2 separate regions of the Homo sapiens genome follow, and region 1 is linked to region 2. The links come from fine-mapping of genetic effects on gene expression. Tissue or cell type: fetal neocortex. Region 2 holds a variant in brackets; the other region holds the start of a gene. All regions are shown on one strand. Distances are between the middles of the regions.

Region 1 (8,115 bases), 71 kb before region 2:
GACATCCTATTAACATTTATCAGCTTCACAGAACATGCTAAAAAGATTTGTCATTATTTATCATAACGATTACAGTTATTGTTTATGCAGCTATCTCAACATTTAGGATATATCTAGATTCCTAGGATAGAATTCTAGGCTATAAACTAACATAAATCTAGTTTCACGTTAACTCACGATGATAGAATTTAAGGTAACTTCATTCCTTTTTCATGAGTCCTACCCAATCCTCTGTCAGTACTCCAACTTTCCTTTTAATTTCCCATAAGTTTTCCTTAAACTCCAGCTCAAGGATATATATACGGCCTCTTACTCTGAGTCTCTAAGCATTCCACATTCAAGTTACTTCCTATCCTATAGATAGGGCTTTTAAGTGGCAAACAAACCAAACACCAGTATATTCACCACATCATACATAATTAATTGTCTTAGAAGTTATATCACCTTTAATTTATCAGGATTTCAGTTATTTCCATATATATATATATATAATCACAAGATGGTAATTTCAGAATCAGATAAGAATTAAAAGAATACCGAAATATGAATAAGTTGGTTATTATACAGAATGCAGATTTGTTCCGAAAATAAAACAGTTAATCAAATGTTCTACTTAAGGGATATGTGAAGGTAAATCTGTAAATAAGAAACTAAAAGATTATGGGAAAGTAAGTAAACTTATTACAGAAAACCAGGTTCTCTGTTAAAGAAAGCAGAGACCAAAATGCTTTAATACGTAAATACCTAAAGAAATAAGGCAAGTTAAACTACGAAATAACTACAAAATACTGAATAGGCAGAACTATGGAGTTCATTGTTGTGGGGGAATGAAGGGCAGCCCCTCAAAAAATGTGTCCACATCCTAAGCCCTGGAACCTGTGAATGTTTTCTTATTTGGAAAAAGGCTCTTTGCAGTTATAATTAAGGATCTTGAGATGAAGAGATCATCCCGGAATATCCAGGTGGGCTCTAAACCCAATGACAAGCATCCTTCTAAGAGAAAGGGAGAGTGAGATGTGAGACAGAAGAGGTGGCAGCAAGGACTGTAAGGCAGAGGTTAAAGTGATGGGGCCCCAAGCCAAGGAATGCCACCAGTCACCAGAAGTTGAAACCCACAAGAACGGATTCCCCCTAGGGCCTCCAGAGGGAGTAAAATTGAGCCTACACCTTGATTTCAAAGTGCTGGCCTCCAGAATCACGAGAACTTAAGTTCTATTATTTTAAGCCGCTTAGTTTGAGGTGATCTGTTTTGGCAGCACAGGAAAGTAACACAGGTACTTGAATCAATGCCTCTCAACACAGTAGAGAGACTTAACTGGATTTTCAATAGTCTCAAATTACGTGAAATATAAAAAAGCTTATAAAATTCTTATTACTTATTCTAAAGAAATAAATGGTGAAGAAAGTACCCATTTGAGTTTCAGTACCAATGAGAGATTCTGGAAGGACCTAAAAGGATAAACGAGTTATAAGGAACAATTTTAGCAGCACTGACTGAAATATTTCTCTATCTCAGAGATACATATGAAAATAAAGTAGTGAAATTGGGGAAGAAAAAGGTATTTACCCAGAATCCAAGAAAAATCCAACTAAATTTGTTGGAAGCAGGTTTACCTGCCAAGCACAGATCATAAATCTCATGGACCTACTACTACTTCTCTTCAGCTTAAAAATTCTATGTAAAAGAAAATATTCTTCTGCAAGAACTACTGTGAACCACTTATTTTTTAAACCTAGAGTTGAAAGGTGTAAAAATGTCATTTAAAAAAAATTTTATTTTAAAATGCCTCTTTAATATATATAAATTAATAAACCTTTTATTTAAAAACTTATAACCTCTTAAATTACTAAAACTCCCTTCAGAAATGAGTCAACAATACTTTATACAGAACAAGAGAATCATCACTAGCCTTGCAAACGAAAGCTGATAAAAACAATTCAAGAAAAAAAGAGTGTCCTAACAAAACAAGAAAAGCAAGCTAAAAATTTTAATCAAAACATCTCAGTGACAAAGTTAATGGTACAAAGTCACAGGTAAAAAATAAGGTGACAGAACATCACTATAAATCTTTTTCCTTTGGGTCTTATGTTTGAAGATAGCTATTTATTCCTCTATTGATTTAATCTTAACAGAAACAATAAAAAATATTGAAAGGTAGCTTTGTGTACACAGGAAACCCAGATTGCAGAAAAAGACCCTAATAAATTCAAAATACCCTGCTCTGTTACTAAACAGAAAATAATTATTTGTCCCCTCCATACAATAAAAATAAAAATGCAGGAACAAGAAACTCTTGGTTTTAAATTTTTATTAAATGTTCATAACTTGCATTTGATGATCAGTGGGCAATCAGTTCGTTCTACGACTCCTAAAGAACTTCATCAAGGAACACACATTAAACAAAATTTTGAATTATACTTAAGGGTCCTCAGGCATCCTTTCATAAATGCATGAAAATTAGTGCTGGATGCCACTTCCTTTGATTTGAACAGACGGTGGGGGGAATGATTAGATTAAATGTTTTCAAAATCACTTGCTGGGAAATCAAGAAGTAAATCGGATCTCTGAACATCAGGTAAGGTATGCAATTTCAGAAACACTGCTAGGTTTTACAGCCATTTAAAAAAATAAGAACTTGCCAAACCAAAAAATCCTTCAATGGTGTATTCTGCATCATATTGTGTCCTCTTTGAACAAAAATAACATAACCCGCCACAGATAGAATTATTTTTTTAAGAGGTGAATGACTTTGTGTTCTGAGCTTATATCCCATCCCAGGCCAGTTGTCACATGATGTGGAAGTAAAAACTTAATCATGATAAAAATCATACATTTAGACAAACTTGGTGGAGTTACCATATAAAGGGAAAAAATTAGCCTGAATTATTGAAATTTTTAAATGAGGCCCATTTTAAACGTCAACTACCAGGAAACCATGACCTGGAACAGTATCTTTTTTTCTTTCCAAGGAGACACTTACAGACACTGGTTTAAATGGAGGCCCTGGCCTCTCCTAGTTCCTTCCCCCCAAACAACTTCCAACTGGGGCCATCAAGGGTCGATCAGCAGTGCAACTGCAAACTAAATATAGTACCTGACTGACCACAGGGTAAAAACAGCTGCTGTAGGTGGAAAAAAAAAAAGTTAAAAAGACAAAATGATACCGTCCCATTTCCCCATGCCACCCTAACCCTACCAAGAAAAGTAAAAGAGGACTAGGTGGACATTAGGAATAACCAAGAATAAAGCTGTTCTTTCAAACTGAGAAATAAAAGAAAAATTCACCTTTTTTTTTTTTTTATAACACTTCAAATACCTACTGTTAAAGAGGGCCTTCCACTTTTATGGTTTGTTTCTCAAGTTTAATCTACGAATCCAATCTCTACAGAGAAACAGTAACAGAAAGAAAGTAATCAGACAACAGATCACCCACACATTCAAGCCCAGTTAAAGTTGGCAAGAAATGTATCTAGTTAGGCTTCTACGGTTAACAAATGTATTCATTTCTTCGCCCAGCTTTCACTTGTCCAGGGGAAAGAACACAAGACCGAATTGTACTTCTGTTTCAAGAGGTCACTGTAAAAGCGCACTTCGGAGTGTAGACGTCTCCGATCTGTTCCAACATGACCACCTCTTTGGACCAAAGGCCAGAAACTGCTAAACGCGTGCCCTATTATTTAAAACGTGCATCTGCACCCACTTTGCTAAGCAGCATCAGACCCAGGCGAGGGGCGGGGAAAGGGGCGGCGGGTCCCACTCGTAGCCTCAGGACGACGCAGCCACAGCTTCCTAGAGAGCGATCTCGGCAGAACGGCAGGAAGCATGCGGAGAGGAAGGCGGGGAGGCGGCACGTGCTCTCCGTGCTGGGTCCGCCGGGCCGGCCGGGTGACCCTCGCCAGCTGTGGGGGAGCGGAGAGGTCCGCGCCCCCGGGAGCTCGGGTGGACGCCGAGACCCGGGAGCGGGAGGCGGCTCACCTGGACCCCGGTGTAATTCTCGAAGAAGAAGAGCACCATGCTCTGGTAGACGCAGTAGAGCCGGTCGTCCAGCGCTTGGTAGAAGCGGGCGGGCAGGAAGGCGGAGAGCAGCCGCCAGACCCCCCAGGCCAACACGTAGGTGGGCGCCGTGCCCAGGAGCACGACGCTGGGCAGCAGGTAGCGCATGGAGTACGTGTGGAGCACCAGGGACAGCAGCATCTTCTCAGCTCGGCGGCAGCGAGCTCCGCCTGCGCTCCCCGCCCGCCTCCCGGGCCTCAGTCGCGGCCAGCAGGCGGCCAATCACCGCCCGGGCCCGGGCCGCCGCGCCCGCCACCCGCTCCCAGCCTCCGCCCCCAGCCGCATGGGCCGCGCCGCCGCCCGGGGCCGGGTAGGCGAGTGCGGGGCTGCGTGCGCCGCTCCCGGCGGCAAAGCAAGGGAACCCGCGGCCCTCCCGGATCGATGGCTCAGGGATGCTCACACCCCATGACCCTCACCCATCGCCACATCCCCCTGCCGGGGCAGGGGGCTCCGCGGCAACAACGCGCCTTCTGATTGGTCGCCCGTTGCCATAGTTCCACCTCGGCGGCAATAACACGTCTCTTGATTGGTTGGTTTGGGCCGACAGTTGCAGTACAGCTACCTGCTGGGGCGCGGGCAACCCGGCTCCGGCCACTGCGCATGCTCCCCAGCTGGGCCGGCTGCGGACGCGGGAAGGGAGGTGGTGGCGACTGACGGAACTGGGTGAAGGTGGGTGCTGGCCGGAGGAGGGTCCGGGTGCCTCTTGTTCTGCTCCCTCGGGCCGGACGTGCGCGCGGTCAGGTTTAAGGGTCGCTGGAGCTGCCTGGAACGCGCACCTGCTGCTCACAAGCCCCTGGGCGCCGGGATGCACACAATTAGAGCAGTGAGAAAGTGGGTGTTAACGTTATCGGAGGTCTAATTCTTGCAGGCACCTGGGCCCAGGTTGTAGGCAGCTCGGCCCAGGTCGCGGGGCAGCTCGAGTGTCCCCATCTGCTCACTGCCAGTCCTTTGCAAGGGGACGCCGCCTCCTCAGCCTCCGCTCTGAGTGCGCAGCAGCCCCTCCTGCCCGTCTCTCGCTACCAGGGTGTTTCAGAATTAGGGTCCGTGTTTTTCCCCATCACAGTAATGATGATAATTACATGTTTATGCATAGCTGAAGAACAATCCCACAAGGATATTTCCATACTGTTTATTAGACCTTTTCAGAATTCACTCTTGCTTCATTTCCTCAGAGTCTGTTGGACTTGTTTCTGATTTTTTTTTAATAAGGAGCCTCGTTTTTTTCTGTAGTAATTAAAGTAGTTGCGTGCACATGTGTAATCCATAAAAAGCATACTTTTGTAGCCTTCACTAAAAGCTACGAAGGGTGGATAACTGTTTTATTGATGTTAAAGCAGATCCACAGGACTTTTGGATCTTTCTCCTCCCCTTTGGCTGTGGTAAAAATGGTTTAATATGTAACCCTTTTCAAGGATAGTTGTACTTTAAAAGAATGCCGAATGCTTTACCATATATATATATATATATATATATATATATATATATATATTCCCGCCCCCTCCCCACCACCACCATAATGGGAGCCTGTGCTACCTTTAGGCAGGACGGTATTTCAGTGGGAAGTTCTAATCAGGGCCAGGATGGTAGCTACTTTCTTTATACATGATTAACATCAAATAACAACATCATTGGTAGATGATGACCTTTGGGGACAAAGCCAGGTGAATGGAGATCTCTCAAGTAACAAGTATTTGAAGGCCAGCAGGAAGCATTACACAGTAAAAGGAGCTTCTCTCTTTCTGTGGCTGTCATTGTCCTGTACTGTAAGAAGCACTAGGTTTAGTACTGGTGGAAAAAAGTCACAGGTGTGGACAGTGTGCACAACTAATGCTCCTTATGCTTTCTTTAACTGAGACCAGACATCTCTACACTAGAACAGTGTGCGAAAAGATAAAGCAGGTTCTGTGTTCACGTTAGGATTGCTGTGTATAAAGTCAGTAAATATGTGTTTATGTGTAAATTTGTTGTGAATCACCCCAGATTACTGTTAGTCACGAAGTTGTAAACTTTTGTGCAATGTTTGCCATGAAAACACAGAACTTAACTTTCTCTTGTTCCCTCTTTATCTCCAAACCCAGCTCCTGACTATCAGTTATTGTCTGTCCTGCTCCCGCTCCTCTCTTCCTGCGAACAGTCACAGATCCACCCTCTCTTTCTGCCACTACCCGGCCCTGTTTTTCTGTTTTTTTTTTTTTCCCTTTTTCCGTGCAAACCTCTTAGTTGATAATCAGCCCACACCCTCTGCCTCCTTACCTTGTACTTTTGTTGAGCCCTTGCAGTCTGATGACCTTTTCCTCCCCTTTACTGGAATGGTGCTTCTTTCAGAGCACAGCTGATTTCCTCCTTTGCATACCCTGCTGGGCACCAGTGGAACAGTGAAAGGTGAATTCTGTCTATGCCTTCCTTGTACAACATTTAACAAGGAGTTACCTGTGGGATGAAAAGGGGACATTCTTGGTTCTCTGGGAGCATATATCAAGGCAATCTAATTTAGTCTGGAGACAAGGAAGACTTCTCAGTGAAATGGTATTTCAGGTGAAGCTTGAGGGACTTAGTGGGCTTTCCATGGGAGAATGGCACATTTGAACGCCTGAAGCTGAGAAATCACCATATTCTCATGCATAGCACTGGAGTGGGCCACAGTGTTCTTTTTAAAATTTGTTGAGATGCCCCTTGAAAGAATGCTGTGTATTCCCATCACACATTCTTAAACTGATATTTAAATGTTTTTCTCAGCTGGGCATGGTGGCCTATACCTGTAATTCCAGCACTTCAGGAGGCCAAGGAGGAAGGATCACTTAAGCGCTTTGTAGAGTGAGGCCTCCATCTCTACAAATATATTTTTTTAATTAGCTGGGTGTGATTGTGCATGCCTGTAGCCCCAGCTACTCAGGAGGCTGAGTTGGGAGGATTGCTTGAGCCCAGGAGTTCAAAGCTGCTATGAGCCATGATCGCGTCACTGCAATCCAGCCTGGGCAAAAGAGAAAGAGTCCATCTCAAAGAAAAAAAAAGGTGGGGAGAGGGGGGCTTTTAATGATAAATTTAAAAAGGCTTTTAATTATAAATTTAAGTAGTTATGAAGTTCTGATGAGTTATGAATGATGTTTTGAAAATAAAGTGATTACAGAAAATTTTTAAATGTATGCAGTGAGTTATAAATATTATAGTGACTTAATATCCACCCCATCATTCATTTCAAAAATACTTAAGCCTTTGACCAGTTGAAAATTTTGCATTGATTATTTTTCTCCCTGAAAATATTTTTATTTCACTTCTACCACAGGATTCTATCATAATTGAATATGCTCTATCCTTCAAAGTTTTTTACTGATCAGACTGTATCATTAGGGTCCTAAGAAGCAAATTTTCTTCTGGATTGAACTGTTACTATTATTAGCAATACACAGTTTAATCAATGTGTTTCACAAAATCTGATAAGGAATTGTAGGCAAAAAAAAAAAAAAGTTACAAGAAATGCATCTCTTAAATAAGTTATCTCTGTTGGTGTCCTAAGGTTTATTACACCTTTCTACCTCAGCAGGGCAGCACAATGTAGTAAGATTTAGGATGTGCCAGGGGGGAGAGGAGCCATTATGAAATGCCAGGTGGGCCTGGACTGCAGGAGTCCTCAGACAGATCACTTTTAGAAGAGTTGGGATCTGAAAACTGAATCCCTTGAAACTCCTCATGACCACGTGTCCATATTCTCAGGGATACGCATGCCTCCATTTGAAGATTGTTTTTACAGAAATAATTGGGGTAAGGAAAGGAGACAAGGATGCTAGGGATTGAGTCTGGAAAGATAGGCAAGAACCAGATGACAGCAGGGTCTTGGGGGACACATAAGGATTTTAGAATTTATCCCAAAGGACAGGGAAGCTACTGAGATTTTAAGGAGAGGAGTGACATGCTTATATTTGATCTTTTTAAAAGTTGTTCAGGCATTGTGGAGAGTATATTTTAAACAGTTTGGAGACTATAGCTAGACTCCCAGCTAGAAAGGATGATGGTAGCTTAGCCTTTGGTGGTGACCATGTATGGAGAGAAAAACGAATCCCTCA
Region 2 (8,000 bases):
CAAACTTTTGCCATGTATAAGTTTCAATTTCTTATGTATTCAAATTATATCAACACTTTGTCTTATTGCATCTGGCTTTTGAGTCATAGGTAGGTGGAAGCCTTTTCCGATACTCAGGGTTTAAAGTCATTCAGCCACATTTGTATTTTCTTCCAGGTTGTAAAAACTCTATGGATTCAATTTTTACACTTAGTTTTCTGACTAGGTGTCAGTTTTGAAAAATCATAAAAAAATGCAGAAAAAATGATGCTCTTTCCAAATTCATCTAGAAATTCAATGTAATCCAAAAATTTCAAACTTTTCAAAAAGAAAACGACATGTTTATTCTAAAGTTTATAGGAAAGAAAAAAATGCATAGGAAGATGATTTTTAAAAAGAGAAATGATGAGAAAAAATTTGACATACCAGATATCAAAACAGTCTGTACAATTATAGCAGTAAAATAGAGGTCAGCACAGAATAGACAAACAGATCAATGGACGAGAATAACCAGAAACACACCCATACCATGTGGGAATGTAAGAGATGACTCACAGGGGGCAATATAGGTCAGTGTCAATAAATTAGTTATTAAAAACAACATGGTCCCCTCACATTATACAGTAAGTGAAATGCACATGCATTAAAGGTCTAAATATTTTTTAAAACTATAAATAGGAGAATATGAGATTATTTTTAAAGCTCAGAGGGTGAGGAAGGCCTTTCTAAGCAAAACCACAAGGGTAGGTGCCATGGAGGAAAAGAGGTGTTTAATTTTGTAAAAAATAATAGTTAAAAATTAAAAACTTGGTAATACTTAAGACACCATAAGCACAGCTAAAGAGACAGAGTTTTATAACACAACAAAAGTTTAATGTCCATATTATGTAAACATTGCTGTAAAACCATGTGAAAAATATAAATAACCCAATTTCAAAACAGTTAAGGGATCAGGACAGGTAATTCACGAATGATAAATCTCCTATCTAAGATATTCAGACTCATTCATAATTTAGTAATCAGGCAATTAGAAATTAATGAGATCTATTTTTTTAACTAATCGGATCACCCAATATTGAAAATATGGGTTATGTCCAGTACTGGACATGGGAATTTATAGGACATAGGAAATAGGACTTTATGTACCGTTAGTAATAGTGTAAATTGCTGCAGCCTTGTGTATCAGAATTTAAGTACACATATCCTAGGGCACAGTAATTTCACTGCTTGGAATGTATTTTACAGAAATCTTCATGAGCCTGGGCTCGGACTAGAATAATTCCAGCTCAAGAAAATCTCTTAAAATTGAATTCAGATTGTTCAGTTAGAAAACACACACACACACGCACACACACACACACGCGCGCGCACACACACACACACACACACACACACACACACACACACGAGTTTAAAATAGCAGAAGCCAGCCGTATTGCAGGGTTCATGCCTGTAGTCCCGCCTACTTGGGAGGCTAAGGTGGGAGGACTGCTTGAGCCCAAGAGTTTGAGGCCAGCCTGGGCAACATAGTGACATCTTGTTTCTAAAATAAATAAGTAAATACAATAGCAAAACAATGAAAATAACAGAAAGCACATAAATTAATTACAGTACCTCCCAATGGTTAAAAAGAATGAAGTAGCTGTATATGTGTTAAGCTGGAAGGATCTTCTAGGCATAGGGTTAAATAAAAGCTCCTGAAAAAGCATGTCATTCTCCAATATATATAAAAACAAATCCCTAAACAATATCTGTGTTTATATACATTTATTTCTATGTAAATATGTTTTTTTTTTTTTTTAAAGAGACAGGATCTTGATCCATTGCCCAGACTGGAGTGCAGTGGTATGATCATGGCTTACTGCAGCCTGGAATTCCTGTCCTCGAGTGATCCTCCCACCTTGACGTCCTGAGTAGCTAGGACTACAGGCATGTGCCATGACACCAGGCTACTTTTAAAATTTTTTTTGTAGGGACACGGTCTTTCTATGTTGCCAAGGCTGGTCTCAAACTCCCGGCATCAAGCAGTCCACTCACCTTGGCTTCCCAAAGTGTTAGATTATACATGTGAGTCACTGGACCTGACCATAATATGTTTACATTCATAAATATGTTTTTAAAAGAAATCTAGAAGATACACTTCTATCTTTATTGTAGTTAAGGAAGGGTTGTAAGACTGGAGGACCCTGTGTACTTGTCTACTGTTTGAGTTCTTTGACTATGAAATCAAATATCACTCCATCCACCCATCTACCCATCTACCCATGCACCCGTCTACCCATCCATCCAACCATCCACCCATCCACCCTTCCACGCATGTATCCTTCCATCCACGTATTTATCGTGGTGGGGATAAAGGCTGCCAGAAGTATCGATCTTTAAACAGAGACAAGATGGAACAGAAGCCTACATGTAACCTCACAACAAAGTCTGTACCTTACACCTCTCATGGCCTGCTCTAGGACATGCTGCCTGAGGAATTACACTGGACTTCTGAGCAGTGGCGTTGAGGTGCGCATGGGGCTGTGACTGAGTGTGCGGGCAGCACTCTGGGAGGTCTGAAGCGCATCTGACCACTGAACAAGGGCCGACAGCTCCAGGGTCATGTCCAGGGAGCCCCTCACAGCCCCACGTTCCTAACTGTAAACACACACAGGAAAAATGATTTCTATCCAAGTTTATTTGGCATCTGAACATAGCCACATCCCCAAATTCCAATGTCACTTCATAGGAATAATCCTCAAACATCCCATAAAATGTGGCCGTAGGACAGATGTTAGAGTAATGCCAGTCCTGGCCGGTGGAGACAGAGATGAATAGGAAGCTGAACTGCCCTTGAGCAGCTCCGTGAAATTTAAATTAAAAAAAAAATTTTTTTTTTTTTTTTTAAATGTAAGCAACAGTATTTAGCAGGTCTTGGCAGGCATTTACGCACAAGCTAAAGTTTACTAGCCATGGCTCTGTGTGGTCTTATGGTTAGGATACAGAATCAACATGCTACCAAAATTAATTTTTTATAGTATGGTGGGCAAGTCACTTTATTTAACTAAAACTGCGATTGCCAGCATCCAAGTGTGGTTAATGGTACAATGTACAGAAGTTCAAGAGCACACGGGACCCATGTGAGCTTCATCTTTGCTTATCAAAATAAGTAAGCATGTTAGGGCTAGGAGATCTAGCCACATCTCCACTCTGGTAAGGAATTGCCCAGCTCCCTCACTGTGGGACGGTGGTCACCCAGCCTCTGCGGCTTCATGGCTTAAGGCAGCCCTTAGCAGTAGAGCCCAGCAGGTTACAAATATTCCTAGAGTCGTTTCTCATAATGAGCCCAGAGCTGCCTGCTGTGTGATTTTCATCTGCTCATATCACATGTGTCCTCTTTCACACAGCAGTCCTGTAGGCACTGCTTCTGCAGACTGAATAAACCACTGCTCCTTCCGTGCTTCTCCCGGGTCCTGGCTTCTAGATGCCTCATTCTGGAAGCTCAGAACACAAGACTAGGTGCCACCTTCGAGTCTTCTTTCTCTAATATGCCACATCCAATGTATCAGCGAGTGCACCTGGCTCTGAAATGTATATTTAAAATATGACAACTTCACAACACCTCCATCGATACGTCCCTGGTCCTAACCCCCATCACTAATCACCTGAACCACTGCAAAGGTCCGAGA[C/T]TGCTTTCTCTGCTTCCATTAAAAAAACATGTGTCAGCACTTTGAGAGGCCGAGTTAGGAGGATCCGTTGAGCCCAGGAGTTCAAAACCAGCCTGGGCAACATTGGGAGACTCTGTATCCATTAAAACAAAAATAAACACAAACAGAGTAAACAAACATATACCGCAGCCTAATCCTCCCACTTAAAATCGTTCTGTGACTTCCATTTATCCTTAGAACAGAACCCAAACTTCTTGCTGTTGTCTGTTAAGGTGTCAGTGGTCTGGAATGGTCCTGTCTGAAGCTGCCTGCTTCTCCAGCTTCATTTCCTATTGCTTTGTCTTCTCTCCCTTCATTTCAGCCACGCTAAACTTACCGCTTCTCCTGACCTCTCAGCCCTTACCATTCCTGGAAGGGCCAGTCCAATAGACCTACAAGAGTCCATCCTTCTCTTCATCATCTGGGCCTCAGCTCAAATGCCACTCACCTGCAAGGGGCCTACCTCACTCCTCCTCTCTATACTCACCCTGTTTTCTTCATTGCATTTACCACCAGAAGGATTTTTAAAGAAATTGTTTGCTGCCTGTCTTCTCTCTTAAATGTTAAGTCCCACAAGGGCAAAGGCTGTATATTCCTGTCAGTTGCTGTACCTGCAGTGCCTAGGATATGCTCGGCATATGACGAGTGTGTAGGAAATATCTACTGGGTAAATGAATGAATGACCTGATACCATGTGTTGTTTGAAGAAAGTAGCCCAGTCTAATAATACAGCAGTTCTCAACATATTCTTTCTGCTCTGATATTTGACTGGAGACATTCACATCGCTGATACTTCTCTAGGACATCCTAAGAATGTGTCACAGACAAGAAAGTCTGCCGTTTATGTGTGACTCCTACCACACCAACTTCTGTTTCCCATCCAGGAAATGTGTAAAAGGATATTACAGGTGGTGTTTCCCTTATCCAAAATGCTGGAGACCAGAAATGTTTTGAATTCCAGATTTTTTTTGGGGGGTGGTGGGTGGCATTTTTGGAATGGACAATGAGAGATCTTGAAGATAGGACCAGAGTCTAAAACCAAAATTCATTTATGTTTCATCTGCATCTTATACACATAGCCTAGAGGTAATTTTATACAGTATTTTAAATAGTTCTGTGCATAGACTGGTGTGATTGCCAGGTGCGACAGCATGACTGTAGTCCCAGCTACAACGGAGGCTGAGGTGGGAAGATCGCTTGAGGCCAGGAGTTAGAGGCTGCAATGAGCTATGATCGCAGCACTGTACACCAGCCTGGGCAACAGAGCCAAACTCTGTTTCAAAAAATAAACAAACAAATTTTGTGCATGAAACAAAGTCTGTGTACATGGAACCATCAGAAAGCAGAGGTATCACTATCTCAGCCCTCACCCCCATGTGGACAATCAGTGGTTGTGTGGCATCACCCTCATTCCTGACTGTGACTTTTTTTTTTTTTTTTTTGAGACAGTCTCTCTGTCACACAGGCTGGAGTGCAGTGGTGAAATCTTGGCTCACTGCAATCTCTACCTCCCAGGCTCAAGCGATTCCCCTGCCTCAGCCTCCCAAGTAGCTGGGACTACATGCATGTGCCATCACGCCCGGCTAATTTTTGTAATTTTTAGTAGAGATGGGGTTTTGCCATGTTGGCCAGGCTGGTGTTGAACTCCTGGCCTCAAGTGATCTGCCCGCCTTGGCCTCCCAAAGTGCTGGGATTACAGGCGTGAGCCACCGTGCCTGCCCGTGACTCTGAATTTATATGCTACTACCAAGCAGTCATTTCCTTACACTTATTCACACATAAGTACTTCACAGTAAAAAATAAGACATGCCATTAACACAGTGAAGACTTACGTGCTCAGGGGAGCTAAGCAGCCAGTGGCATCAGCAGAGACCGCAATCAGCTGCTGAACAACAGCAGCAACAACAAACAACAGCAGGCCTCTGCTCTCCCAACCATGCTGTGCTTTGATTCAAAGCTTACGGGACACGGCATTTTACATTTTAGGTGAGAAGGAACATAAGAAGCAGTTACAGGCCCAGGAAGTGGGTCCTCTGGGGACGAGGAGGCATTCTGCTGGGGGGCTTTTTAATGGTATCTGCACCACTAACAATGGTCTTAGAACCGACAGCTCCTTTCTGTTGGTTCAGTGTACACAAAGTTTGTTTCATGTACAAAATATTTACTTAGTTTTTTGGGTTTTTTTGAGACAGGGCCTCGCTGTTTCCCAGGCTGGTGTGCAGTGGCATGATCACGGCTCACTGCAGCCTCTAACTCCTGGGCTCAGGCAAGACTCTTACCTCAGCCTCCCACACAGCTGGGACTATAGTCACGTGTCACCATGCCCGGCTAATTTTTTTTCTTTCTTTTTTGTCTTAGGATTCTTTCTTTGATTTTATAAGCTGACATGATTGCTTGTTCTGTTGTGAATGCACGCTGCTCTGGGCCTCAGTTAACCCATCACACCTGAGCTCCACGCTGTCCACGGGTGCTTTTTCTGCAGTGTTAACGTCATCTTCATGGTCGGTATCATCACGATCACCTTGATTCAGAACCATTCTGGCTATTTCCCCAACAGTCAATGAAATGAACAACCGGAGCCTCATTATCAATGTTAAAAATGACATTAATGTGTACTTCTTCCCGCTGACTGATGAACTCTGAAGGTATATTTTTTGGAGGTCAGACATCCTTTTCTTCTCACTTGACAAGCTGAATTCTTCTAAACCACCACCTGGTTCATCATCATCACTGAACACAGTCGTAGGCCAGAGGTCACGCCAGGCACGCACATCTGTGTCTTTAGTCACTGTGTTGCAAGCGTTGGCAACAGCATGTATGGCATCCTTCATGCTCAGCTCCTGAAAATCTTCTACACCTACACCTCCGTTCACTGCTGCGAGCGTGCAATTCAAGACAGTGTTTTTATATTTACTTTTCATTGATCTAAAGATACCCTGGTTACAGGCTCAACTAATGAAGTCACGTTTGGGGGAAAGTACACAGCATCAATATTATCTTTGATGAGAATTTCAGCTGGAGGATGAGCAGAACAGTAGTCAAGGCATAAGAAAATCTTGCTGTCATCATCCGGTCCAACTTTTCTGCAGCGAGCACAAGAGGCCTGTACGAAGTGTTTGTAAAACCGATCAGAAAAGATGTCCCTGGTGATCTATGCCTTTTTGTTAGCATAATAATGGACTGGTAAGAAATTTACTCTTTGAAAACAGCACGGACAAAAGCTTTTGCCCATGAGAGCAGGTTTACACTTATGCGTGCCTGCTGCATTTGCACAGCACTGCACAGTCATTCTGTCCTTGGCATCCTTAATTCCTGTAGGGGCTGTCCCGTCAGCTGTAGTCAGCATCTTTCTGGGGCAGTAGCACCCAAATGGTCATGTCTCATCAGCAATACAGACTTGTTCTGGCATCAGATTTTCATTAGCGATAATCTTGGCAAACTCGTCAATGAGTTTCGACGCTGCCTTGTGATCTGCAGATGCTTTAAAACTTGAATTCCATGTCATTTCTTAAATTTCTGCAACCAGCCTGTTGAATATTCACAGTTCCCTTCAATTTTCAGTTCATCAGGATAGATCTTCGCTTGTTTCATGATCAGCCTACCACTGAGTGGCACGGGTTCAGTGTGATGCCTTCAGATCTAGTTTTTCAATACACTATTCACATCTTCATTTTTAGCTTTACGTAGAGTTTTTCTATTTTTCATTAACTTCTGCTCATCACATTCAGCATAGAACTTCAAAAGCGTATCCTTCTGTTTCTTCAGGTCATGTATGGTGGTCATCCCAACACCATACTCTTCTGTAAGACGCTTCACACTTATACTGCTGTTCAGTTCCTCCAACAAGTTGACTGTTTGTGCTATTGATAAACATAAATTATTCCTCTTTTTCTGATCACTGTTACACATAGGGGGATCTGCAGGCCTTTTCGACATTTTCAGTAATATTTTTACATGACACTGCAGAGAATAAGCAAAAAACCACAGTGAGTAATGCATGGAGTTCTCGGCCCCACGTGAGGTATCGTGGGGAATCTGCGTTGGGTGCGTCCAGCCTGCACACGTGCCATTTTATTACACATTGTGGGCGTGCTTGTGTGGGGGAATTTGGGTGTGCATGGAAAAGTTATACTATAGTTGAAGGGGGCTGGGTGGGTCTTTTTTTTCCCTTGGGGACGCTAAATCAACTGTGTCGTGCACCTGTGCTTTGACTATGCCCTGTCACATGAGGTCAGGTGTGGAATTTTCCACTTGTGTTGACAGATTGGCACTCAAAAAGTTTAAGATATCGGAGCATTTCAGATTAAAATTAGGAATGTTCAACCTGTATTA

The links. PIP is the estimated chance that this variant, and not a neighbour inherited with it, causes the effect.
Region 1: it holds the start of MCPH1-AS1, and the variant in region 2 is fine-mapped to the expression of MCPH1-AS1 in fetal neocortex (Walker 2019, PIP 0.95).

The regions. Positions count from the first base shown.
Region 1 is chr8:6,704,749-6,712,863 of GRCh38, reverse strand. It overlaps MCPH1-AS1 (MCPH1 antisense RNA 1), which reads left to right and starts at 4,655. Exons shown (of 5, transcript NR_125386.1): 1 at 4,655-4,723. AGPAT5 (1-acylglycerol-3-phosphate O-acyltransferase 5) reads right to left here and starts at 4,222. Exons shown (of 8, transcript NM_018361.5): 1 at 3,977-4,222. The coding sequence starts at 4,195. RefSeq lists silencers at 3,829-4,068, 4,129-4,468.
Region 2 is chr8:6,633,446-6,641,445 of GRCh38, reverse strand. All of the region lies in intron 13 of MCPH1 (microcephalin 1), which reads right to left. All of the region lies in intron 1 of MCPH1-AS1 (MCPH1 antisense RNA 1), which reads left to right. Among named protein-coding and RNA genes, the nearest start is that of MIR8055, 15 kb to the right of the region's middle. The variant C/T (reference allele first, on the strand shown) is at 3,651.